Linked DNA regions of Homo sapiens. The protein of the gene in region 4 purifies or fractionates together with the protein of the main gene of each other region. This does not show direct contact. Each region holds a gene or a part of one and is shown on either strand. Other genes may lie near its edges.

Region 1 (7,293 bases), on a different chromosome or scaffold from region 4:
AGGAAACATAACAAACATGGTTCTGCCAGAAGGAAGAATGGTGAGTTTTCAAGATTCCACCCAAGCTGGAAAGTATTTTTTTAAAACATGTGCAACTGGCAGGAAAAAGAACATGGAAGAGTCTTCTCAGAAGCACCCCACCTACTTATCTTTCAAGTGCATCTCAGAAGCCTTTAGTGACTATTGCCCCCACATAAAACTAACCCCCCCCAACTGGTTTCCTCAAGCATACTCAGATCACAGCAACCTTGGCAAGTTATGCTGCCTATTGTTTCACACAGCGGTTTCTTCCTGCAGTGTAAGCCCCCTAAAGGCAGGGGTGTTTCTTATGTTCAGCTTTGTATCTCTAGCTCAGCACCATGCTTGAACATTGTTAAGTGGCTCTATTAATATTTTTTAAATGTGTTAGTGAATGGATGAAAAATGTTAGTGCACCTATTTAAATCACATTATTATGAAACAGTGAGATCTGCAGATCTGCTTTTTAAGCACATAACTTATGATAAGTAGGATAAAATTTAAATTGCAAACCATAATTAAGGAGAAAAAAACTACCACCACCACACAACCAATAACGAGTCAAGGTCTGAGTTCTGAGCACCTAAAGAGGCAGGCTTGTTAGCAAGAAATATTTCTATCACTAAACAGATATTCATGCATCATAAAACAAAGCATGCCTCTTTGAAGCCTAAAGAATATGGCAAGACCGGGCCCAGTGGCTCACGCCTGTAATCCCAGCACTTTGGGAGGCCGAGGCAGGAGGATCACTTGAGATCAGGAGTTCGAGACCAGCCTGGCCAACATGGTGAAACCCCGTCCCTACTGAAAATACAAAAATTGGCCGAGCATGGTTGCGAGCGCCTGTAATTCCAGCTACTCAGGAGGTTGAGGCCAGAGAACCATTTGAACCTGGGAAGTGGAGGTTGCAGTGAGCCGACTTACACCGCTGCACTCCAGCCTGGACTATAGAGTGAGACTCTGTCTCAGGAGAAAAAAATATATGTATATAAATATATATATAAAAATATATAAATATATATAAATATATAAATATTTATATATTTATATACATATATATGGCAAATATACCCAGAAAGGAACAGGAGGGGTGGTGCACTTTGGTGTCCGCAAAAAATACAGCTTAAAAAGCATCTACCTCAAGTATAAGATCTACCATGACTTTCTAAAGAATTAAAAAAAAATTTTTCCCATACCTCCATCTGACGCCCTTGTCAGTTTAATCTTTCCATTCAATCCCACCCTCTGGCTGTTACCAAAATGCCATAGGCTAGTATTGCAAACACAGTCCACTACAGTCACCTGTAATTTAGGCGAATAACAGAACTTCCTTCACTATTGACTATTATGAAAGGTTTGAGAGATGACTAGCCTGGGATCATCTGTTCCCTGCTGGGAGGAGGTCTGAAAAATTCATAGGCAGGGGAGAATGGGAAGGTAAGTTAAAACAAACCAGGTAAAAAGAAATCCACTTTAAATAAAGCTGCATTTGGAAGTGTACAACAATTCTCTCAAGAGCCTCCAGAAAGGCTGCCTTTGGTTCCGCAGAGCTCCACAACCGCACAACCTGCTCTGTTATAAACTGGACAGCACGCAGCACCTTGCTTAACTAACTCTAAAAATAAAGCCCTCTCGTTTAGCTCACTAAACTGTTACCCCATATTCCCTAAAAGCTGTCATTACGATCAAAATGTCTGCAGCCTTTACAACTAAAAATGTGGAAACTTGTGTTGCATCCTTTTAAAAACTCCATCTGCTGCGGGGAGCCAGTGCACATCTACCCATCTATTTGAGTATATGCGAATCTTGCCCTTATCTAGAATATCCTATTTCCCATCCATATGCCTGGCTCTAGCAAAATAAGGACCCTCAATGGCGCTTCTTTACTGCTTCTCAAGAAACCTCCATGTTCTGACCTGACTACTCCTGGAAACACAGCAGCCCCTCCTCAAACCTTTCTTTCTGCCTAACCTGCAGCTTCCAGAACGCACTACGGGGCTTCGCTTCTGCTACTTTCGCACTTACTTCCTCCGCCGGCAGCCTTTTTCCCACCTCTCACATCTAACAACGTACCTTCAAGACTCAACATAAGCATGACCTCCTCTCTCAAGAGAGGTCCTTCCAGACCCCACTTGCGTTTCTCAAATCAACCCGGGCCTGGGTTTTCACGCCTGCTTTCCCAGAAACCAAACTCCTGCAAGCAGGGGCAGAACCTCATTCCACCTGCATTCTCCGATCATTACACATTCTCGGGGCAAGAGGCGAAGCTCAAAGACTGCCTGGGGTCGGACGTGAGCGCTGAAACACCGCTCAAACTGCACGAGCCGAGGCGACGCCGGGGTTAGGGCTGCATTCCTGTCCCGGGCAGCTCCGGAGTCTGAGAAACGCCAACGTCTGCACTCCCAGTTCTGAGACCCCGGGAGGAACCGGCTCCGAGCCCCAGAGAGGGGCAACCGTGCAGGGCCAGGGGGGACACGCTACGGGCTACTCGGTTCTGGTGACCAGACAATTTCGTCAGGATGCGGTGCACGAGACGGAGAAGAAACGCTCTTCAGCACCAAACAGCCCGAGGCAGACATGAGGAGGAGGAGGAGGAAGGGAAGAGGGAGAAGGTCAGGGCCAGGGTCACCAGAGGCGGCGGCGGGCGGAGGGTACCGGGCCGCAGCCGCGTGGAGAGACCAGCGCCCGCCGCGGGGACTGAGACCCTCGGAGGCTCCGGCTGCGCTGGCCCGGCCTCCGCCCCTCGCGACGGGCCTAAAGCCGCGGGCTTGCGTCTAGCGCCTCCCGGGAAGGCGCGCCCGCCTCAGGTCCCGCCAGGCCACCCACCCGGGGCCGCCGGGGCGCCACTTACCCGGCCCGCCCGGCCGACTCTGCCCATGAGCCGCGCCGGCGGCAGAGCGGAGCCGGGCGGCACTCCGCGGAAACCCGCCAGCGGCAGGAGGCCTCGGCGGCGCCCACCCTTCGCTGAGTCCTCAGGGCGCTCGGCGGCGCGGGGTCAGGGAGCGCGGGCTGCCGGGAGAGCGCGCCCGCGCCTGCGCCCCGCCTGCGCCTGCGCCTGCTTCGGCCTCTGCGCCTGCGCCGAGGGCGCCTTGCCGCACTGCCCCCTGCCCGCGGGAGGACCGCACTGCACGCTCCCCTCCGCCGGCGTCTTCTTACCATCAAGAGGTGTCGCCCTGGCGCACATTTTCGAAATTCCACAAGGCTTGGGGAGCGCGGCAGCGCCCCCAGATGGTGAGGAGGAGAAGTGGTCCGAGGCCGGGCTTTCTGATAGGGGAGGTGGGGGAAGTCCCTCCAGGCCCCTCGATCTCATTCATTCAAAGCCACTCCTATATAAGCAAAAAGTTGAAAATAAGTCTGCATAGGCCAGATGCTGCAAAAGGATGGCAAGGAGCACGAGGTTAAGCGTAAGATTATGGAAACAGATGCCGCGATTAGGGGTACAGAAAAGAATGTCAATGCTATAAAGCCTCGGTCTTTAAAAACGACGTCGCTGACAGAAGCAGGGAGGGAAAGGGAAAGTGGGACTTCGGGTAAATATGATTTTTACATCTGTAATTAATTGGGTGTCAAATAGAGTTCAAGCCGATAAATCAAATAGTAGAGATTTAAGCAGACGTCTTAGTCCGAAGGAGTATACCAAGAAAGTTACTATAATCCATTAAAATCCAGTCATTAAGAAAACGGGAAAAGGGGGAAAAAAGAAATACAGTGGAGAGACAAAAGACAATCTAAAGAAATAGAGGATTAAGGACGTCATGGGATGGTATGATTCTGAGGGTAACCCAGAACAAAACTACAAAGCTTTCAAATAATCCACACATACATGCACCCACACATACATGCATGCACACACACACACACACACACAAAACCACAGCAAAAAAAATATATATATAGGGAAATATTTTAAAAAGTTACAAAACAGAAAGCGTAACCAAACTATATGACAGAACAAGACCAAATGTCTCACAAGAAGAAATATAGACCTAAGCTTACCTACTAAAAAACTACAATCTCAGATAGGAGCACAAACCATCATGCAACTCAGTGTTGTATACAAGAAAGTGCTAACGTTATTCTGAGTTTGAAAATACAAGATTGGAAAAGATATACCAGGAATATGCAAAAAAATTAAAAAAATCAGGAATCACAAACCGCTTACTACAAAGTTGATTTCAGGGCAAAAAGCATTAAGTAAGATTAAGAAGGACATTTTATAATCTTGAGGAGCACAATTCACAATCAAGAAAAAAATAGGAAAAATAGGAAAATCTTTGCACCAAATCACATAATCTCATTATTCATAGCAAACACTGTAGGAGTGAGTGAATAGACAGAAATAATTGGCACACTCCTTGCCAGACGAAGAGTACAAAAAGTAAATGGGGATTGAGAAGACCTAAAAATACAATTCCTATGATAGATCTAATATATCAAACACTGTCCCCTAAATAGACATTACATCTTTTCCAGTGTCTAAGGAATATTCACAACAATTAGTCATATTTTAAACCACAGAGAAAAATCTTAACATAGTCCAATAAGTAGAATCATATCGGTAATATTATCTGCAGCAATTCAATAAAAGTAGAAATTAATGAAAAAACAGAAAATAAAACATGCCTACCCCTTGAAAATTTTTAAATGCTTAAATAACACTTGGACTAAAAAGGAAAACAAAATCAAAATAACATAATATCTAGAAAAGTATGAAAATGACATACTCATGGGATTTAGCTCAGAGAGTACTAAGAGGAAAATTCATGGTTTTAAGTTTTTGTATCAATTAAAAACTTGGAAAAAGCTAAATGAATTAAGCACTTGTGCAAGAAACTGGAAATAAAATAAAAATGTGAGAAGCAGAAGGACGTACTTGGTCAATAAAAGAAGCAGAAAGTAATAGCGTGTAAACAGAAAAAGGAAGAAGGGCAAAGATAGAAGGTGTCTAGACTGGGTCTCTCCCCACCCCGTGATCAAAGCACCGGTGGGGGTGCAAAAGCCCTGATTAGGAGGTCCAGAGCTGCAGGACTTCCTCCAGGTTGAACCTGCTGTCTACCTGTACTCCCTAATCTGCTTGGCGTCTCCACTCTGCAGTCTGAGACCACTCCTTCCTCCCTTTTTGGTTGAAAATTTGTGCCTTTGTTCCCAAATCATTCCATCATACATACACAAGTAACTTTTTGGTTTACAGACCATAGATGCAATCACATCCATTGTTTAGGAATTTTCTAGTTTAACTTCCAGGAGGAAAACTGCCTTACTTCATTTCCTAGTACGTGAGCAGTCTCATGCTTGCCTCCATTTCCTGTCAATAGTAACAAATATCATCTTTATTTTATGCACCGAGAATCCAAAGCTTAACCCAATGGGGGAACAGAACCCAGGCCATGCAACTATCAGAAAGCGCACACAAAACGGTGGAGCTTTAGAAGAGGGACAAGACAGACGCGCTGGAGCGCCCCCTCGGGGCTGCAGAGCAAACATCGGTAGTGACTCCTGCGTAAACAAGTCGTGTGATCTGCTCCAGCTGTGCTCAGCGCCTGGCAGGAGGCTGGCAGGCAGCAGATGGTAGAATTCATCGGAAACTGGGAATTAGCAGGGCAGATGTTCCAGGAAGAAAGAAGATAAGGGCGGTGTTTGGGCTGGCAGGAAAGGCTGGGTGAAATGCTACAGTATGCAGCATGGATGGAACCGGGGGACCCCGAAACAGGAAAAGAAAGGGGTGTGGGCCCTGGAGGGAAGACAAGCTAGTTAAGACAATTTGATCAGATTATAATTTGATCAAAAACAAGTATTCCCAAGGATTCTGTGTGTAGGGATGCTTTCGGTGCACCGTGGAGAATGATTTTTGTCTCCTTTTTTGTATCTTTTTTTTTTTTTTTTTTTTTGAGACGGAGTCTTGCTCTTGTCACCCAGGCTGGAGTGCAATGGAGTAATCTCAGCTCACTGCAACCTCCGCCTCCCGGGTTCAAGCGATTCTCCTGCCTCAGCTTCCTAAGTAGCTGGGATTACAGGTGCCCGCCACCATGCCCGGCTACTTTTTGTATTTTTAGTAGAGACGGGGTTTCACCATGTTGGCCAGGCTGGTCTCGAACTCCTGACCTCCGGTGATCCGCCCACCTCGGCCTCCCAAAGTGCTGGGATTACAGGCATGTATATCTCTAAGCAGCTTCGGCCATTTCAGAAATCTTTCCTTCCTTCCTTCCTTCCTTCCTTCCTTCTTTCCTTCTTTCCTTCTTTCCTTCTTTCCTTCTTTCCTTCTTTCCTTCTTTCCTTCTTTCTTTCTTTCTTTCTTTCTTTCTTTCTTTCTTTCTTTCTTTCTTTTTCTTTCGATGGAGTCTCTCTCTTGTTGCCCAGGCTGGAGTGCGATGGTATGATCTGGGCTCACTGCAACCTCCACCTCCTGGGTTCGAGCAATTCTCCTGCCTCAACCTCCTGAGTAGGTGGGATTACAGACGCCTGCCACCACGCCCTGCTAATTTTTGTAGTTTTGGTAGAGATGATATTTCACCATGTTGGCCAGGCTGGTCTCAAACTCCTGACCTCAAGTGATCCACCCGCCTTGGCCTCCCAAAGTGCTGGGATTACAGGTGTGAGCCACCATGCCCGGCCCATCTCACAGATTTTTTAAAGTTTTTTCACTTTTTTTGTCTTTCTAAATCATTCTCTACAGTTATTCCTGCTCTGTAAGGTTTCTAATAGTAAAAATATAGGAACAAACTAGCGAACAATAACAACTTAGGGAAATTCAATTATGTTGAGAGACAAATAATTTACATGGAAGGATCCCATTTTTGTTTTAAAAATTTATAAATATATACAAAGTATCTATAAGGTATTTGCCAATATGGCTGGCTCCAGATAGGGATTATCAGGATTCTTTATTTAAATTTTTTTGCTTGTTTGCCTTTTTTATCTCTGAGTAATATGCTTGCATTGCTTTTGTAATAAAAATAATGAAAGAAGGCTGGGCGCGGTGGCTCACGTTTATAATCCCAGCACTTTGGGAGGCCAAGGTGGGTGGATCACTTGAGGCCAGGAGTTCCACACCGGCCTGGCCAACATGGTGAAACTCCGTCTCTACTAAAAATACAAAAATTAGCCGGGCATGGTGGTGGGCGCTTATAATCCCAGCTACTCAGGAGGCTGAGGAAGGAGATTCGCTCAGACCTGGGAGGCAGAGGTTGCAGTAAGCTGAGATCTCACCACTGTACTCCAGCCTGGGCTACAGAGTGAGACTGTCTCAAAAAAGAGAAAAATAAAAATAAAAATATA
Region 2 (3,076 bases), on a different chromosome or scaffold from region 4:
CTTGTACTTAAGAACACACATTGAAGTATCATGGAATAATGGGGTATCAGGTCAATGTAATCACAACCTCAAATAGCCCAGAAGCCTAGAAACATTAATGATTAATTTGAAGTGTTATGAAAGTTCTGTGTACCATTTCTGCAACTTTTATGTAAATTAGAAATTGTATCAAACTATCACTCTTCTGCTTGAAATCTAATAGAACATATGCCCAGACTTGTATGTAAATTTTCATAGCCACTTTCTTAATAGCCTCAAATTGGAGAACGCAAATGCCCATTCATTGGTGGAACTGCTGATATAGGCAACAGCAGATACATTTCCAAAGCATTCCAGACAGGGCGAAACTGTTGGGACAGAAAGCAGATCAGTAGTTGACTACGGCCAAGGGTAGAGGGGAATAGATTGACTGCAAAGGCGTACAAGGGAAATTTTGGGGGTGATGGAATGCTCTGTACTGATTATTACATGACTATATACAATTGCCCAAACTCATCAAATGGAACACTAACATGGGTGAACTTTATTGTACGTAAATTCTAACCCACTTTAAAAAAATTCTCTAAAATAGTCCCCCATTTCACTCAGAGTATAAGCAAATCCTGAAGAAGACCTACACGACCCCTCTTACTATTCACCCCCCTCATTCTCACCCCAGGTGAGCCACCCTGGCTTTTCTGCTCCAATACAGCCACTCAAAGCATGGCCAGGACTGGGCATGGGATCAGTCTGTGAATTATTTTCAGTTCTTAGACAAGTACGGTATCCGAGAGTAAGCAGTTAGAAAATTTATCAGCAATTGACATCACTGTAATATACAAGAACATGGCCCATTTTCTAGTAATTCACTGTTAATATATTTTACAAAAGTACAGGAGCTTGACTACTGGGATTAAAAAAGTTATTCAGAAGAGTCAGACTAACTGTGACAAAGTTATAGGAAACATTTTTTTCCTCTTTATGTATGCATAAGAGTGATGTGATACTGTCTACGTAAGTCTAAAAGTCTTTCCATAAGTAGACAATAAAAATTCCAAGTGATAAAGGTTTTGTTCAAGGAATACTAAAACAGGAACACCAGAAAAATAAGTACTGTTTTCTTTTTTGTTGTTGTTACTATTAATATGTACCATACTTGTAAAAACAAATTGTCCACTTCTGGAGATACCCATGGTTTACTCAGCAGAGGACTGAATCAATAGCCTTAAACATAAATCAAAAGCTAAAGAAAATGGGCTTTGGAAATATTTGAACATTGGTGTTTAAGAATTACAAAGAAGTAGCAAGCTTAGCACTGGCAACTCTTTATTAATCAGTCTATTTGTCTTAAGGGGGAAAAGAGACTATAGATCAAAAAATTTTTACCCTGGAGGTCTTTCAATAAAGAGATTGCATATTAACCTTAGAACAGTCCTGCCTCATGAAGGAAACAGCATTAAATGCAAAGTGTGAAGATAGCATTCCCTTTCTGTTTTCTCAGTAAACAGTAAGAACAGCCTTTATTTAATACTGAATGAAGAAAACTTGTGGAATCCCTACTAGCAGCAAAATAATATATTCATTTCTTAAAAGGATACAAAGATCAAATTTAGATCCTGCCTGGGTCTCATTTTCTTCTAATACCCAGAACAATCATTGTTACCATTAATACAACAGTCATCTACTAGCTTCTGTGATCTAATTTTACTTAACTTTTATTGAATGGTTCAATGATGTTGTATAATTAGCTCCTCCAAAGTAACACTAGAAAAGCATCCTATTACACAAGTTTATAAACCTTAAGTGTGTTCTAGACTAGAAGTCATTTGATGATAGGGAGATGGGTCAATCAAGAAAGCATTATATACACAGAATACAAATAAAAGTTTATTGTACAAAATTAAGGCCTTCGTATTTCATAGTTCACCAAGGCTAAAGAAACACTGGATAATTTAAGTCCTTCACAAAAATTTCACTTTTACTCCTCCTCATCTCTAACTATTAAAATGACCCAGCCAAATGTTATCAAAACAAACACTGTAAATAACACCAAGTCTTTTAAAGACGACTATCCCAAATGTTATTTCTTGGCATAGGTGATCTTCATAGCATGGGACGGTGTGATCTTAAATCCCTGTAAAGCATCCCTGGCAGCTCCAGCCTGCCCATCATTTTCAAATTCAACAAAAGCAATGTCATGCCTCCCTGGTACCAGACGTACTTCCTTGAAGCCAGGGAACCTATAAAGAAGAAAAACAATTCATGTATACAGCAAGTACATAAATGTTTGCTTTGTGTTAAAATTTGTTAAGCAACTTCCTAATACTAGTCCAAGAAAAATAACCATACTCTAACCAAGAATACTGAGTAGACGGAAGAGCCTCATGTGTAATTAATACCATGGAAGAACTGCAAGAATAAACTAATTCTATTTTATATTATATCAAAGCTTTGTTATTACATCAATCAGAGTTAAGAATTCAAACATTAGAGGAAATTTAGCTTTGTATTTGCTAAATCGGCAAATTGGCTCCAATTCATGATTCATCCCAAACCAAATCAATGAACCTGTAAGGAATTACTGCTGTGTGATAAATGGATTCAACCCACGGAAGTACTACTTGTCCTGTGAGGAAGCTCTCAGAAACAGACTTATTTATGAAAAAACTTACTGATTAAACAGCATGGATAACATCATCTCATTAGTCTCTTCTGGTAAGTTATTAAGGAATAAAATATAGTTTGGAGGGTAATCAGGGACCTATTAAAAAGTAAAAAGGCAAAGTTAGCTTGTAAGTTTAAACAGCATCGTAAGCTAGGCATGTGAAATCTTACTATATCAAACAATAAAGCTGAAAAACAATGACACTGGAGAAATAAATCAAAACCTTACAGTAACTAAGCAAGGCAGACATTCAAGTAAAGACACTGAAAGTCTGGAAAATTACAAATCTCTTAAGTGTTTAACAGTATATGAAACAATTATGTTTTAAGCTTCTGGAGGTGAGTCGTGATTGGAGAATTTTGTCACCTGGATAACATAATCAAAGATCTTAATAAAATTAGAGATGGCCAGCAATGTCACCCCTCCGTAGCT
Region 3 (7,009 bases), on a different chromosome or scaffold from region 4:
TTGAGTATAAACATTTCTTATGTTCCCTGTGGCAAGTTCATTTAACCTCATCTACCATACAGGATTGTAGTGAAAATGTGCATGCTCCACAAATGTTATCACAGTATTAATACATTAGCTTTACTTTCCCATAATTAACAGAAAAAACTCTTATCAGGTGGTAATATCAAAAACCAACATCAAAATGAAAAACGCCCCTAACATCGAAAACTTTTTTCCATACTTCAACAGTAAGTATGGAAAATTATTACTTTCGGTAATTGTATAGTGAAGATTCTGTGGGTTGACAAAAAGAAGAAATGAGGCCAGAATATGCAACAGAAACCTATAATAACTTCACCTGATTTCAAAGTTAAAATATGCCAGGAGTAAATAAAGCCTTATATAGTTTGGGAGCATTAATATAAGTGAAATCTCCCACTGAATTACCTTCCCTTCTCAGTACTGCAGAAACCCTATCTGGCAGTGGAGTTTGTAAGACTGACAAGCTTATGCTCTCCAATAAAACCACTTGCTTATCAGGGAAAAAAAAAATCTGCAGGATTGCATGGCAGTCAACAAGTGACTTAAAATTATCGAGTATGAAAAAATTCTGAGGCCGATAAACACCTTAAGTCCACTGTTAAATAAAACCAGTTCAAGGATAAATGGCACTCAAATGACATAGAAATGAGTATAAAAACTTCCCTCTACTATTTCTTATAACTTGGGCATTATTCCAAAGATGAACTCTCCTTTATCCATAGGCAAATTCTAAATAATATACAAGGGAATCATAAAGCTACCATTAGACTCCAAAAGTCAACCTTTTTACTAAGGATATCTGTTTTTGCAAGAGAAAGTAAACAATCGCACATACATATGGTGGGACCACTAATCCCAAGGGGAACATTTTAAATGGTGCACATATGCACAAATACAAATGAATTCATTCATTCCCTCCCAGAATATTTTGTTCCAATCTGACCTCCTGTGAGAGACATCAGTTCCAGATGACAGCAATTTATTTTTGCCTTAGAGAAATCAAGAACTAAGTGTTCCCTACTTTACCAACGCATTATAAATGTCATTAAAATAGGCTGTAATGACTCTTAACTACAGTACTGAACTGTGTGCTGCTGAGTGAAAATGACAAAGGCAGGGTTCCAGATCCTGCTGTAAACTTGCACAAGCCACCTTAACTCTGTTCTCCACTTCTCATTCCTTGATTGGAGCCGCGTATAGTCTTTTTTAAGTTGCTTCCAGCTCTGAGTCTGTGACATACAGCTCAGAGGTATTAACGTTTTGTGGGGCGTAATGGTGGGGGAGGGTGATAGCCTAAAGAGAGTCTGTCTTACAATGTCATTGTCTTTTTTACAATGCCTAATATCGTAAACTAAATAACTCACAAAATTAAAATGTGACATGCTTTTGCTTTCTATTGAATAATTCAACATATGGCAAAGCCTCAAAAAGTACACCCTATCCTGGCTTATACTCTACAATGACACTAAACATATCCCTGGAAATCAATTTCAATGAAGAACTTTAGCTGAAAAATTCAAAACAGCTATACAGGTGACTTGACACAGTGATTCTGTATCACAAGTACACAATAAAATGATACAATTATGCAAAGTATTTGGCTACTCGGGCTTTTGTGGGTTTTGCCTGAATTATCCAAACAGGTCTTTGTACTTCATCAATGAAAACACACAAGGGACAAGAAATGATTTTCACGAAATTGCTTAAATTAACTGCTAAATTCCTCTGTACCTTTAAGGAAAGGAATCTGGAACACCAAGAGTTTGTGTAAGTATTTCAACTCTCAACCTCCACATGGGCGGTGTTTCGCCATAAATACTAAAAACACGTTTTGAACATGATCCCTGTATTTCAAAAGCTACTTATGAAGAAAAGTGGGACATGCATAGAAAATAAATGATGAAAAAAAAAAACAATGCCTTCTAATCCCTCCCCATGGGACGATGTTCAGTAACCAGTTTTAACCAAAGCAGGAAATACAGGAGATGGCGGGAGCGTAGGCAGAGAGCGGAAGTTTGCTAGTATCTACTTTGAAGTGTTTGAATGGACCAAGGCACGCTCTCTCCCGCCAAACTATAAACTCAGTCGCCCCAAAACACCAGCCTTCCAGCCCATCAGGTATATTACTCCACGTTTTCCTTTCTCCCGGCAGGTCCTCTACTCCCACCTCCCCCGAGAACTCCCTATTTGCTGGCTTCTCTCAACTCCCGCCACCCCCATCCCAGCCTACATTATGATCCACGCGCTGCTCTCACTTTCCGCCCTCCGCCTTTCCCGTCTGGAGTGCCTGGCCGCGCCCCCACCCAGGCCCTCCCCACGGCCCCTCTGGCTGGGAAGTGCCTGCTGCCCTTGGAAGCGAATACTCCCACCGCGCCCTCCCCCACCCTCTCCTCCGGCTCCAGGCCTTCCTCGGGAACCGAGGCCACGAGGTCCGCGGTTCACTCCCGCCCGACGCCCTCGCAAATGACTCCCGCTCGGTTCGGCCTGGGGGAGGAGGCGCCCTCATGGCTACTGCAGGCCTCTCCACCCTCCGGACTGGGCTGGGCAGCGGCCCCGTCGCACGCAACCCCCCGCGCCCTTGCCGGGCCGAACGGGCGCCGCGCTTCTCCTACCCGCCGCTAGTGAACCCAGCCCAGAGAGAAACAAAGGCTCGGGCTCCAGGACCCGCTCGGCCAGGCCAGCCCCGGCCCGCTCCCTGCCAGGACCCCAACAAAGCCCGAGCTGCCGCCTCGCGCCCCCGGCCTGGCTTACCCATCGGTCCCCGCACGCTTCTTGCCAGAGGGGTAATCCTCCCCTAGGTCCAACCGGTGCCGCTTGGACATCCTCGCACTCTTCGAACGGGCAGTTATTAAGGAAGAAAGCTGGCTGCTGTATGGGCACAGTCGAGGACAGCCACTTAACTCTGGAGGACCCCCACCCCTCCCGCTACTACAGCCCACACGGTGCGGCCGGAACCAACAGCTAAAATGGCGGCGGCGACGAGGGCTGGGCCTGCGCGCGCGCGCGCTTCCGCAGCGTGCGTGCGTGCGAGTGTGCGTGTGAGCGAGGTGCGCGCGCACGACGCCCAAAGGCGGGAACTCCTGTCCCGCCCGCTGCCTCATTGGTCCGACCTTTCTTGGGTCTCCTCCCTCTTCCTGTAGCTTTCCCCTCCTCGGAGCGGCTGTTAGGAAGAACCTGAAGGCCTTCACTTTCCATTTCAGGCTATCCTTGCCCCTCTGAGTCAAGAAATTGAGAAAGTCTAGTCCTAGTTAGGAAATCCTATTCATTTCTATTACCCCGGCTTTAAGGGAATCTCAGACCCAGAGAGGTTGAGAAACGAATGAAGATCGTACAGCTAATAAGTGGCAGAGCCGGGATTGGAACCCAGCTATTTAGTAACTCCAGATCTGGAACTTGCGGCCACTGCGCTACCCTCAGTTGCAGTGAGGGGCCGCGCGATGGTTCACGCCTGTAATCCCAACGCTTTGGGAGACCGAGGCGGGTGGATCACGAGGTCAGGAGTTCGAGACCAGCCTGGCCAACACGGTGAAACCCCGTCTCTACTAAAAATACAAAAATTAGCTGGGCGTGGTGGCGTACGCCTGTAATCCCAGCTACTCGGTAGGCTGAGGCAGGAGAATCGCTTGAACCTGGGAGGCGGAGGTTGCGGTGAGACGAGATCACACCAGTGCACTCCAGCCTGGACGACAGAACAAGACTCCGACTTGAAAGAAAAAAAAAAATCAATTGCAGTGAGGAAACTGAAGTGAGAAAATGTTAAGGCTTGTCATGATCTATTTTGCCCTTTTCTTGCCCAGCACGGACACCATGCACCCAAGCTATAGATGTTTTTAACTAGAATACAGAGAATTCGCAGTGAGGGCACAATTTGCTTTTTTGTTTTTTGTTTTTCTGTGCCTATTAATGCACTTTCGCAGTGTTAAATAACACCCTGCAAGGTAGTTGTTATTTTGTAGACGTAGACGCAAAGGCTGAGGAAGGTTACATCTCCTAGCCATAAGGGCTGTACCTAAAGCCATAACAAGGAGGTGGGGCAAGATGACTCTAAGGATTTTTGTGGATCTCTCCCCCTAGAATATGTCTGCTTCCTCAGTTGCATTTGTTCCCAGAAGAAATGCACAAGAAAAGATCTGTGGACCATCTGCAGCAGGGTGATCTCTGTTGTTCATGGAATGGCTTGGTTTGGCTGCCCTGGAAGACCATACTCTGGTTCTTATCCAAATCTCAGGACTGCAATTGCTAGGATTAAATGCAACTTAAATATTGCAACTGATGAGGGGTTTGTGTGTTTGTTTTGAGACAGTCTTGCTCTGTCGCCCAGGCTGGAGGACAGTGGTGCAATCTCAGCTCACTGCAACCTCCGCCTCCCGGGTTTAAGCCATTCTCCTGCCTCAGCCTCCCTCCTAGCTGGGATTATAAGCGCCCGCCACCACGCCCGGCTACGCGCCCGGCTAATTTTGGTATTTTTAGTAGAGACGTAGAGACGAGGTGTCGCCATGCTGGCCAGGCTGGTCTTGAACTCCGGACCTCAAGTGATCTGCCCACCTCGGCCTCCCAAAGTGCTGGGATTACAGGCGTGAGCCACTGCACCCAGCCAGCAATTGGTAAGGAGGGTTTTTATTTTTTTGTACCAAATCCACATTGGAAAGTCAACACAAAGAAAAATGAGTATATTTTTCACTTGTGAAATATTCAGTACAACTTTCTATCCTAAATGTACCATAGTCCCTACTTTGTCCCTGGTTTTGCTTTCACAGTACAGTAAGATATTCTGAGAGAAAGACCACATTCACATAGCTTCTATTACAGTATAGATTCTCCTTGACTTATGATGGGGTGATGGCCATCGCAAAGCCATCGTAAACTGAAAATGTTGTAAGTTGAACATGCAGTTAATATACCGATAAACCCATCGTGAAGTCAAAAAATCTGGTCAAACAATTGTAAGTCAAGACTGTCTGTATGTTGTTATAAATGTTTTATTATTAGTTGTTAATATCTTACTGTGCCTAATTTATAAGTTACACTTTATCATAATTACATATGTATAGGAAAAAACTGAAATTAAAATGATGAGTTGGCCTTCTATTATCTGTGGGTTCCTTATCCCTGGATTCAATCAACTGCAAATCAAAAATATATTTTTCTTTAAAAATGGATGGTTGCATCTGTATTGAACATGTACAGACTTTTTCTTGCTCTTATTTCTTAAACAATACAGTATAACAGCTATTTCCATAGCAATTACATTGTATTAGGTATTATAAGTGATCTAGTGATGATTAAGTATACAGAAGAATGTGCATAGGTTATATGCAAATACTGTACTATTTTATATCAGACACTTGAACCTCCACGGACTTTAGTGTCGGCAGTTTCTCCTGGAACCAATCCCTAGTGGATACTGAGGGACAATTGTGTTGACTTTTTTCAGATCATGATGTATAATCACTGGATTCCATCTGATTTTTCTCTTTTTGCTTAATTTTACAAATGAGGGAAACTGAACCCCTAGGTCTTATTGAAGTTCACACAATCAGTTGGTATCAAAGTCAGAATAAAATACAGATTTCACTTGAAGTATTAAAATCTCAGTCTTCAGGTTTCCAGTTTGATGACTGCTATAAAGTGCTCTAAAATTTTGGAGAAATAATCAGGGAAAAAAGTTAGAATTCTACCTGCAGAAGTGCTCCACTCAGATGTCAGCCTCTCATAAATGATGAAAGAGGAACTGAAATCAAGGTGATGAGACTTTTCCCTTGGGCCTAGGTTACAGCTAAAGAAAACCATAACCTCATCAGTTGTGTTGTGACCTGAACAATTAAAGAAAGGCCCTGGGCAGGCGTGGTGGTTCACACCTGTAATTCCAGCACTTTGGGAGGCCGAGGCAGGTGGATCATGAGGTCAGGAGTTCGAGACCAGGCTGACCAACATGGTGAAACCCCGTCTCTACTAAAAATACAAAAATGAGCCAGGCATAGTGGCACATGCCTGTAATCCCAGCTACTCAGGAGGCTGAGGCAGGAGAATCACTTGAACCCGGGAGGTTGAGGTCGCAGTGAGCCAAGATTGTGCCACTGCACTCCAGCCTGGGCAACAGAGCAAGACGCCATCAGAAAGAAAGAAAGAGAGAAAGACAGAAAGGAAGGAAAGAAGGAAAGAAAGAAAGGAAGAAAGGAAGGAAAGAAGAAAGGAAGAAAAGAAGGAAAGGAGGAAAGAGAAAGGCCCTACTTATTGAAGGATAGTGACCTCTCTGGAATCTAGAATAAGGGGAACAAGTGGCCAGAGGCTGCCAGGATGTGCACACTCCTTGGGAAGAAGGGTAGAATTCTAGGTCTAAATGATCCACCCTGGATTTTCAGACATCATTATCCCTGGAGTAGAGAAAAGGCACCCACCAGGCCCTCCACAAACTTGGCTGGAAATATTTCCAGATAATATCCTATTTTCCCTTACTGTTACTCTTTCTCTACTAGACAACCCTCTGGCCTATGACATGGACTTTCTCACCTGGAGGAAATGTCTTATGCAGCTAACCAGCTGCAGGGTCTCAAGTCAACCTAAATTAATAAAAAATAATTGCTAATAGCAAACACATACAAAGCACTATGAGCCAGATGCTGTTCCTTACACATTTGAGCCTATTTGAGACTTACAGCAACTTCAAGTTTAGTCCAATGAATTACTCTTATTTACAGCTGAGGAAACTGTTACTCAAAGAGGCAAGTATTTTGGCCAAGATGACAGTTCTGAGATTCAGCCCAGACAGTGTGTGTGCTTAATTGCTATGTTCTGCTGCGGCTGATAAATAGATATTCTCGTTCCACTTTATTCGTCTAAGGTGTGGTTACTGAAGATAAGTTCTCCCAGTCTGACAAGATGAACATGAACTGATAAAACTTCTGCATTGTCCATGTAGAGAACTAGTTTACAGAACTCTCAGTGGACAAGTGGGGATTTGGATTATTTGAACCCAGTCCAACTC
Region 4 (7,037 bases):
ACTACCTTTTGTTGGTAAAGGCATACTGATTTTTTTTTATTTGAAGTAGTAATATGTATTCTCCATCTTAAATAGATTTTTTTTAAAGTAAATTTTATTAAAAGAAATGAGCGATAGCCTAGATGGTTTTGGAAATGGCAGAACTGGAAAAGGAGCTAAGGAATGACTGGGTTCAGGGAAACCCTGTGGCAGAGGTGGCCTGGTTCAAGCTGAATGAGGCAGATGGCACTGATCGCCAATGCCAGGAAGCTAGAGGAGGACGTCTGCTGAGGGATGGGCTGGTTTGAGCAGTGGGTGGTGGCAAGAAGGACGTTCCAATGGGCAGTGTTCTAGATCACAGCAGGCACAAGGGAGTGGTGTTTATTCTTGTTGTTTTTTCTTCCTCCAGAAACGGGCCTGAATTTGAAGCTAGGATCCGACAGAACGAGATCAACAACCCCAAGTTCAACTTTCTGAACCCCAATGACCCTTACCATGCCTACTACCGCCACAAGGTCAGCGAGTTCAAGGAAGGGAAGGCTCAGGAGCCGTCCGCCGCCATCCCCAAGGTCATGCAGCAGCAGCAGCAGACCACCCAGCAGCAGCTGCCCCAGAAGGTTTGGAGCCCAGTGCCCCCTTCACTTACGCAGGGCTTGAGAGGGAAACAGGGATAGGGAGGGAGTACACAATTAACTCCAAATCTCACAACCACCCAGGGAGAGAAGTGAGGTCGTTATCCCCATCTCTCAGAGGCAGACCGAGGCCCAGACAGCAAAGTACTGATGTTAGTTGGCATTTCCCGAGCACTGCTTGTCAAGCTCTGTGCTTGGTACTTCAGGAGTCTTGTCTCATTGACTCCTCACAGAGGCTGTATGAGGAACCTGAGAGTTGGGGGACGTGTGATTTATTCAAGGCCTTGCTCAGGGTGTGAGGGCAGTGCCGTGATGTGAGGGCAGCACTTCCTACTTGGCTGTGCTGAAGGATGCAGTGTGGCCTGTGGGCTCCTCCTTGTGCCATCCCTTCCCTTCTATCTCTTCTTCCCAGGACCCCTCCATCCTGGCCTCCCCTGATACCACCTTCCCTGTGCTGAGGCCCAGCACTAGGGACTATTAGGATTATGAATGAAGAGAGAGGCTGACATGTTTTTCCTCCTGTCCAGACCTGCCTTCTGCACTCCTGAACCATGGTGGAAAAGGCAGTCCCTCCTTTTGCAGTGGGCTATAAAGGTTGAAGTCAGGTTCTAAGACCTTGCGTTGCAATGAGGCCTAGGACCTCAGGCTACCTCAGTTTCTTCATCTGTAAAGAGGATTCACAGTACCTGTGCTACCTCATCGTTCATGCGGAGGTCATGGAAACACTTTGTACAGTGGGGTTTTCTGCACACATGTAGGCCTTCTGCACATCCATCCCTCTTGGATGGGATTTAATAAGTCCTATTCTTGTTGGATCTTCTGTCACCCAGTTTTGGCCCTCAATTTCAAGGCAGGAGCAGAGATACAGAGGGGAATGGTTCTCACTCAGCCATTCAGGAAGTTGAGGCCATAGTTGGCTGGGAAGTCAATGCTCTTGTGATTTAGAATTCTCTCACACCAAGTGCTAGTGGTGTGTGCATAATTAACAGAAGTCTAGAGGTTCACAGCATCCTGCTGAGGGGTGCATGCCCATGTCCCCTCCCCTCCCCTCCCCTGGAGCCTGTTCACCCCTGTGCCTCTCGCCTCATACTCCCTTTGCATCTTAGGTCCAAGCCCAAGTAATCCAAGAGACCATCGTGCCCAAAGAGCCTCCTCCTGAGTTTGAGTTCATTGCTGATCCTCCCTCTATCTCAGCCTTCGACTTGGATGTGGTGAAGCTGACGGCTCAGTTTGTGGCCAGGAATGGGCGCCAGTTTCTGACCCAGCTGATGCAGAAAGAGCAGCGCAACTACCAGTTTGACTTTCTCCGCCCACAGCACAGCCTCTTCAACTACTTCACGAAGCTAGTGGAACAGTACACCAAGGTGCCTGGGCAGGATGGGGCTGGGGTCCTGGGCCCAGGAAAGGAAAACATCTTATGCTTGGAAGCACTGTGTCCACTCACTGTCTACAAGGACATCGCTTCTCCATGGGGCCTCTGAGCAAATGTTTTGAATCCCAGTTTAATGTAAAACCTTGATTTCTATTCAGTTATTTCTTTAAGTGCAACACAGACTGCCGGTTTCTAAAGAGAAGGGAAATACATGCTTGCTAACTACCATTAGGCGATTGCCTGCTATGTGACAAGGCCACGTGGTGCTTGCTGCTTTTAAGTGCATTTCCGTTTTCAGTTGCCTAGTAAGGCCCTGAGAAGAAGCCAACCTTTAAGAGTTGCCTCCTTTTACCTAACTTAGTCCTCACAAGAAGCCATGAGGTGTTTTCCCCCCATGTTTGAGAAGCAGAAACAGGCTCAGAAAGGTGAAGTCACGTACTCAAGGTCTGTCAGCTAGTAAGTACTATGCTGAGATTTAAACCACATTTGACCCTAAAACTTTGGTTCTTCAGCTTATAAAGTGCCTTAAATTGGAAACAGCATTTAAATAGGTGTTGAGAGACACTTTGATGTCATGTAAGTCAGTATAACTAACATCACTAAGAAATTATGTATGCAGCATCTTCTCATTTAATCTCCGGTAGCCTATAAGGTAGCCACTATTGCTATGTTCACTTTACAGAAGAGAAAATTGAGGTGCAGTGAAGTTAGCATGGCCAGGGTCACATAGCTAGGAGGTGGCAGGGCTGGGGCTTGAGCTCTGGCATTTTTACTCCAGACCCTAAGAACTCAATTATCATTTGACAGAGCTGCAATCAAGAATCAGGACAAGTCAGTTCTGGCATTTAAAATAATCAGATTATTAATTTATTGCAAAGTGCACTGACAGCTTTGCCTGTGGCACATTTTTCTTGCTACACATGTCATGGAGGTTGTTTTCCTTCCCTTTACAGTGGGATGGTCTGTACATCTCTTCTTCATATCCAGAAACAACACCTCAAAGATCTGACTTGAAAGGACTTGAGAATTTCCTAACTCTACTCACTTTTAAGTACATAATTAGAATTTTAACAATGTGTGTGTTTAGAAAATGACCAAATCCAGAAGCTAGTATGGTAGCTAAAATAACAGTCATTCAAGGCCCAAGGCCCAAGGGTTTCTATAAATATGCAATATCAATTTTAAATGAACCCTGGATTAATTTCTCCCAGTGGACTGCTTCCAGGGTTAAAGGTCCCAGATCACTTTTTATTCTGTTACTTTCCTGTTTTTTCTTCAGAACTTGGGTATTGGCATTTACCACTGTAACTTGAGGTTCCTGCTGTCTGTTCTAGCCATGGAAGACTGAGCAGATAGATTCTTGGGGTAGAGGTGGAAGGAGGATTGGGATAGGGCCGAGCCACTTTGCCAGTGGCAGTAGAAGCTGTTGGGGCTGTTTAGAACAAAGGCAGCATTTGTTCTCTCAGTAAGTATACATTGTCAGACATTATTCAGGGGGCTGGAGATGTAATCGTGAACAAAAGAGAAATCCCTGTCTTCATGGAGTTTCTAGTCTAGTGAGGAGGAGTCAAGTGCATTGTCAGTGTCTGTTACATGGTGCTAAATACTACAGAGAGAAAGCAGGGAGCAGAAATAGAGGGAGGTGGGGCAAGTACGCTGCGGTTCTGAATAGGATAGTCAGGGGGGACCTGCGTAGTGTTTTTGAAAGGATGAGAGCAGGTCAGTGTCATGAAAGCAGCCGTCTCATACTGACCGTGTTCTGGGTAATCGGCTAGTGCTTTGCATGCTTTCCTGCTAATCCTCGAAGCCACCTTTTTAAGTTCATGGTGCCAACTTTGAGTGGTGGTGCCATTATTTTGGAGAAGGAAATCAAGTTACTGAGGTTAAGTAACTTGCCCTAAGTCCCACAGCCAAGTGGAGCTGGGATTGGGACACAGAATCCCATGCTTCCTCATCTCCTGTGCTTTATCACAGGCCCAGGAAGGCTGCCTCTTTGTACTGCGTTGTAAAGCACTGACAGTTGCTTTAACTCTTCTGTATTTCAGATCTTGATTCCACCCAAAGGTTTATTTTCAAAGCTCAAGAAAGAGGCTGAAAACCCCCGAGAAGTTTTGGATCAGGTAAACTGAATAGCATTTCTTGCAACCAGTTACTGGTGGTTGGTTCTGTTTTATGTCTGAAAACAGTCTCTGAGGCAGGACCTTGTTATGTTCCAGTCATGGGAATGGTGGGAGAAAAGGCTTTGTTGGCTACAAAGGCCAAAGAAACCTGGAGTCCGGATGCTTCCCAACATACCACAACTTTCTGCTTTGCTCTCAGCCTCAATATATCTCCCTCTTTTCCACTCTAGCTAGAAGACAGAAGGCCAGCTCCCAAGCAGATCAGAGGGTGGAATTTTCATTCTGTCCCAACTCTGCACCTGGGTGGAACCAGGTGCAAATGCCATAGTTTGGAACCATACTTCCATTCTGTTCCGAAGGAGGCGCTGACTTTGATGAAAGCCCTGGAGGTGGTAGCCTCATCAGGAGCAGACCCTGCTTCAGCGTAGCACCAAGCTGTTTCCCATCTCTGCAGGTGTGTTACCGAGTGGAATGGGCCAAATTCCAGGAACGTGAGAGGAAGAAGGAAGAAGAGGAGAAGGAGAAGGAGCGGGTGGCCTATGCTCAGATCGACTGGCATGATTTTGTGGTGGTGGAAACAGTGGACTTCCAACCCAATGAGCAAGGTAGGTCTGTGAGGAGTGACTCCAGATGGGGAGCCAGGAACTCAGACTTCCCGGGAAACCTGGTGCAGGTGTTCCCAGAGAGCAGTAGAATCTCTCAGAGGGCTTTATCAGTGCTGTCTCCTCCCTGCTCCCAAAAGACTTCAGTTCTACCACTTTGCCCAACTTAGATTCAATACGTACTTGCCAGACCCTAGATGGGCCTCTGGAGATAGCTGGAGAGAAAACAGACATGGCCCCAGCCCTTGGGGAGCTCAGACAGGGCAAATAGGTGGGTCTTTGATAAGGAATACCTTTGCCTCTGGCTCACCCTCTAGGGAACTTCCCTCCCCCCACCACGCCAGAGGAGCTGGGGGCCCGAATCCTCATTCAGGAGCGCTATGAAAAGTTTGGGGAGAGTGAGGAAGTTGAGATGGAGGTCGAGTCTGATGAGGAGGATGACAAACAGGAGAAGGCGGAGGAGCCTCCTTCCCAGCTGGACCAGGACACCCAAGTACAAGATATGGATGAGGTAAGCTGCTGGGCAGGCCTGCAGGATGACCTTTTCCCCTGAAGCCCCAGGAGGTCGAAGTGCTCTCCACCAGTCAGATCCAGCTCCCCTGTGAGCCTTGAAAGGAGGCGTGGGTCCTGAACAAGGCCATACAGCTGCCCAAGTCCAGGCAGCACAGAGCCTCTTTCCAGCTCCGGCAACAAAGATTCATTCATAGGCAAGGATCTAAAAGCTGTGCTGACCTGTTCTGTGGCCGCCTCCCTGGCCCGGACAGCCTGCTCTCACTGCCTCGTGCCAGCCCTCAGGGAACTCACTGCATTACCCTGTTCTGTTTTGAGCTCTCAGCTGGGCTCCAAGCTCCCAGAGCTTTTCTAAATGTAGCCCACGCTTCCTTTCAGGCATCCCTACCCCCTTCAAGCCAGGCCCTCTAAGCAGGCATGGAGTCTCCAGAACCAGACTGTTCTCCCCCACTCGGAAATAATTTGTGCACAGCCTGAGAAGAAAGGGCCCCTGTCTGTGGGAAATGACTTTTTCTCTCCCTCCCAGCATTGCTGTGTGAGCAGCTACCATTGATTGGCGACTCGCCGCCCCCACCCCTCGCCCCCTTGGCACTGTCCCCCCCCGGCATGTTAAGTGCCCTTGGCCTCTTGGGACTGCCTGGTGCCAGCTGCTGGAAATGCCTGGGAGGAGTGCTAGGACCGTGGCCTCAGCACTCCCATTCATGCTGTGAGGAAGCAGCTTGGCCTGCTGCCGGCTGGCCTCAGCTGCCCTGGGAGGCTTAGCACATGGACGCTGGCTGGCAGAGGCCAAGGCTCCTTGCCACCCAGAGACCTGCCAGGCTCAGCTACAGGGAGGTGGCCTCAGCCCCTCTCTGAGTCCTGCCATTGCTTTGCTTTTCAGGGTTCAGATGATGAAGAAGAAGGGCAGAAAGTGCCCCCACCCCCAGAGACACCCATGCCTCCACCTCTGCCCCCAACTCCAGACCAAGTCATTGTCCGCAAGGATTATGATCCCAAAGGTAGGGAGGGCCTGCTTCCCAACCCTCGGGCTGCCCAGGAAGTCCTGTGTGCCCTCATGTGTTCCTCACACCCGTCTTTCTAGGAGGGCTTGAGGTGCAGCTTATTGTAAAAGCATTGCAAGCCCGTCTGTTACAGGTTTCATGGTGGGAACAGGGCCCAGTCATCTCTGGTGCCCTAGTGCCTTTCACAGTGCCAGGTACAAGAGTGGCACTGAATAGATGCCTTGATGAATGATGCACGCATGAAATACCACCCTCTTAACTCAGGTGGCTGCCCACCAGTGTTCTTACTGAAACATCTGTTTCCTTTTAGCCTCCAAGCCCTTGCCTCCAGCCCCTGCTCCAGATGAGTATCTTGTGTCCCCCATTACTGGGGAGAAGATCCCCGCCAGCAAAATGCAGGAACACATGCGCATTGGACTTCTTGACCCTCGCTGGCTGGAGCAGCGGGATCGCTCCATCCGTGAGAAGCAGAGCGATGATGAGGTGTACGCACCAGGTGAGGTGGGGGTTCCAGGAGAGCCCATGGTAGTCTCCGAATTACAGCCATCTTCTTCTAAGCAAACATAGAAAGCAACAATTGAGGTCAACAAAAGCTTTTGAGGAGAGTTGCACTCTATGATATTGCAAGAGAACTCCCCACTTTCCAGAAGAACTCCCCATAGAAATTCCCCAAAGGCAGACACTGAAGGAGATGCCATGTGCCTGTTGACATCCCAGAGCAAGCTCTGGCTTTAGCTGGAAGGGCTTCCTGTGGCTGTTTAGAAGGAGAGCATTGATGGCTGGAGTACCATGAGCTCTTTGGAATGGGGCAGGAACTGTGC

The links.
Region 1: the proteins of SF3A1 (region 4) and RBM17 purify together in Homo sapiens (affinity purification with mass spectrometry; 5 studies listed by BioGRID and IntAct, with this or other methods). This does not show direct contact.
Region 2: the proteins of SF3A1 (region 4) and SNRPB2 purify together in Homo sapiens (affinity purification with mass spectrometry; 5 studies listed by BioGRID and IntAct, with this or other methods). This does not show direct contact.
Region 3: the proteins of SF3A1 (region 4) and DHX15 purify together in Homo sapiens (co-immunoprecipitation; 5 studies listed by BioGRID and IntAct, with this or other methods). This does not show direct contact.

Annotation. Positions count from the first base shown.
Region 1 is NC_000010.11:6,084,770-6,092,062, reverse strand, and holds the start of RBM17 (splicing factor 45), read right to left. Parts: upstream 3,030-7,293; 5' UTR 2,870-3,029; intron 2,718-2,869; exon of another isoform or gene 2,092-2,717; intron 1-2,091. UniProt on the Homo sapiens protein: Splice factor that binds to the single-stranded 3'AG at the exon/intron border and promotes its utilization in the second catalytic step. Involved in the regulation of alternative splicing and the utilization of cryptic splice sites.
Region 2 is NC_000020.11:16,739,989-16,743,064, reverse strand, and holds the end of SNRPB2 (U2 small nuclear ribonucleoprotein B''), read right to left. Parts: intron 2,741-3,076; coding exon 2,652-2,740; intron 2,220-2,651; coding exon 2,060-2,219; 3' UTR 501-2,059; downstream 1-500. UniProt on the Homo sapiens protein: Involved in pre-mRNA splicing as component of the spliceosome. Associated with sn-RNP U2, where it contributes to the binding of stem loop IV of U2 snRNA.
Region 3 is NC_000004.12:24,581,548-24,588,556, forward strand, and holds the start of DHX15 (ATP-dependent RNA helicase DHX15), read right to left. Parts: upstream 3,008-7,009; 5' UTR 2,847-3,007; coding exon 2,776-2,846; intron 1-2,775.
Region 4 is NC_000022.11:30,339,871-30,346,907, reverse strand, and holds part of SF3A1 (splicing factor 3A subunit 1), read left to right. Parts: intron 1-388; coding exon 389-596; intron 597-1,717; coding exon 1,718-1,975; intron 1,976-4,028; coding exon 4,029-4,103; intron 4,104-4,557; coding exon 4,558-4,708; intron 4,709-5,022; coding exon 5,023-5,216; intron 5,217-6,095; coding exon 6,096-6,213; intron 6,214-6,526; coding exon 6,527-6,712; intron 6,713-7,037. UniProt on the Homo sapiens protein: Component of the 17S U2 SnRNP complex of the spliceosome, a large ribonucleoprotein complex that removes introns from transcribed pre-mRNAs.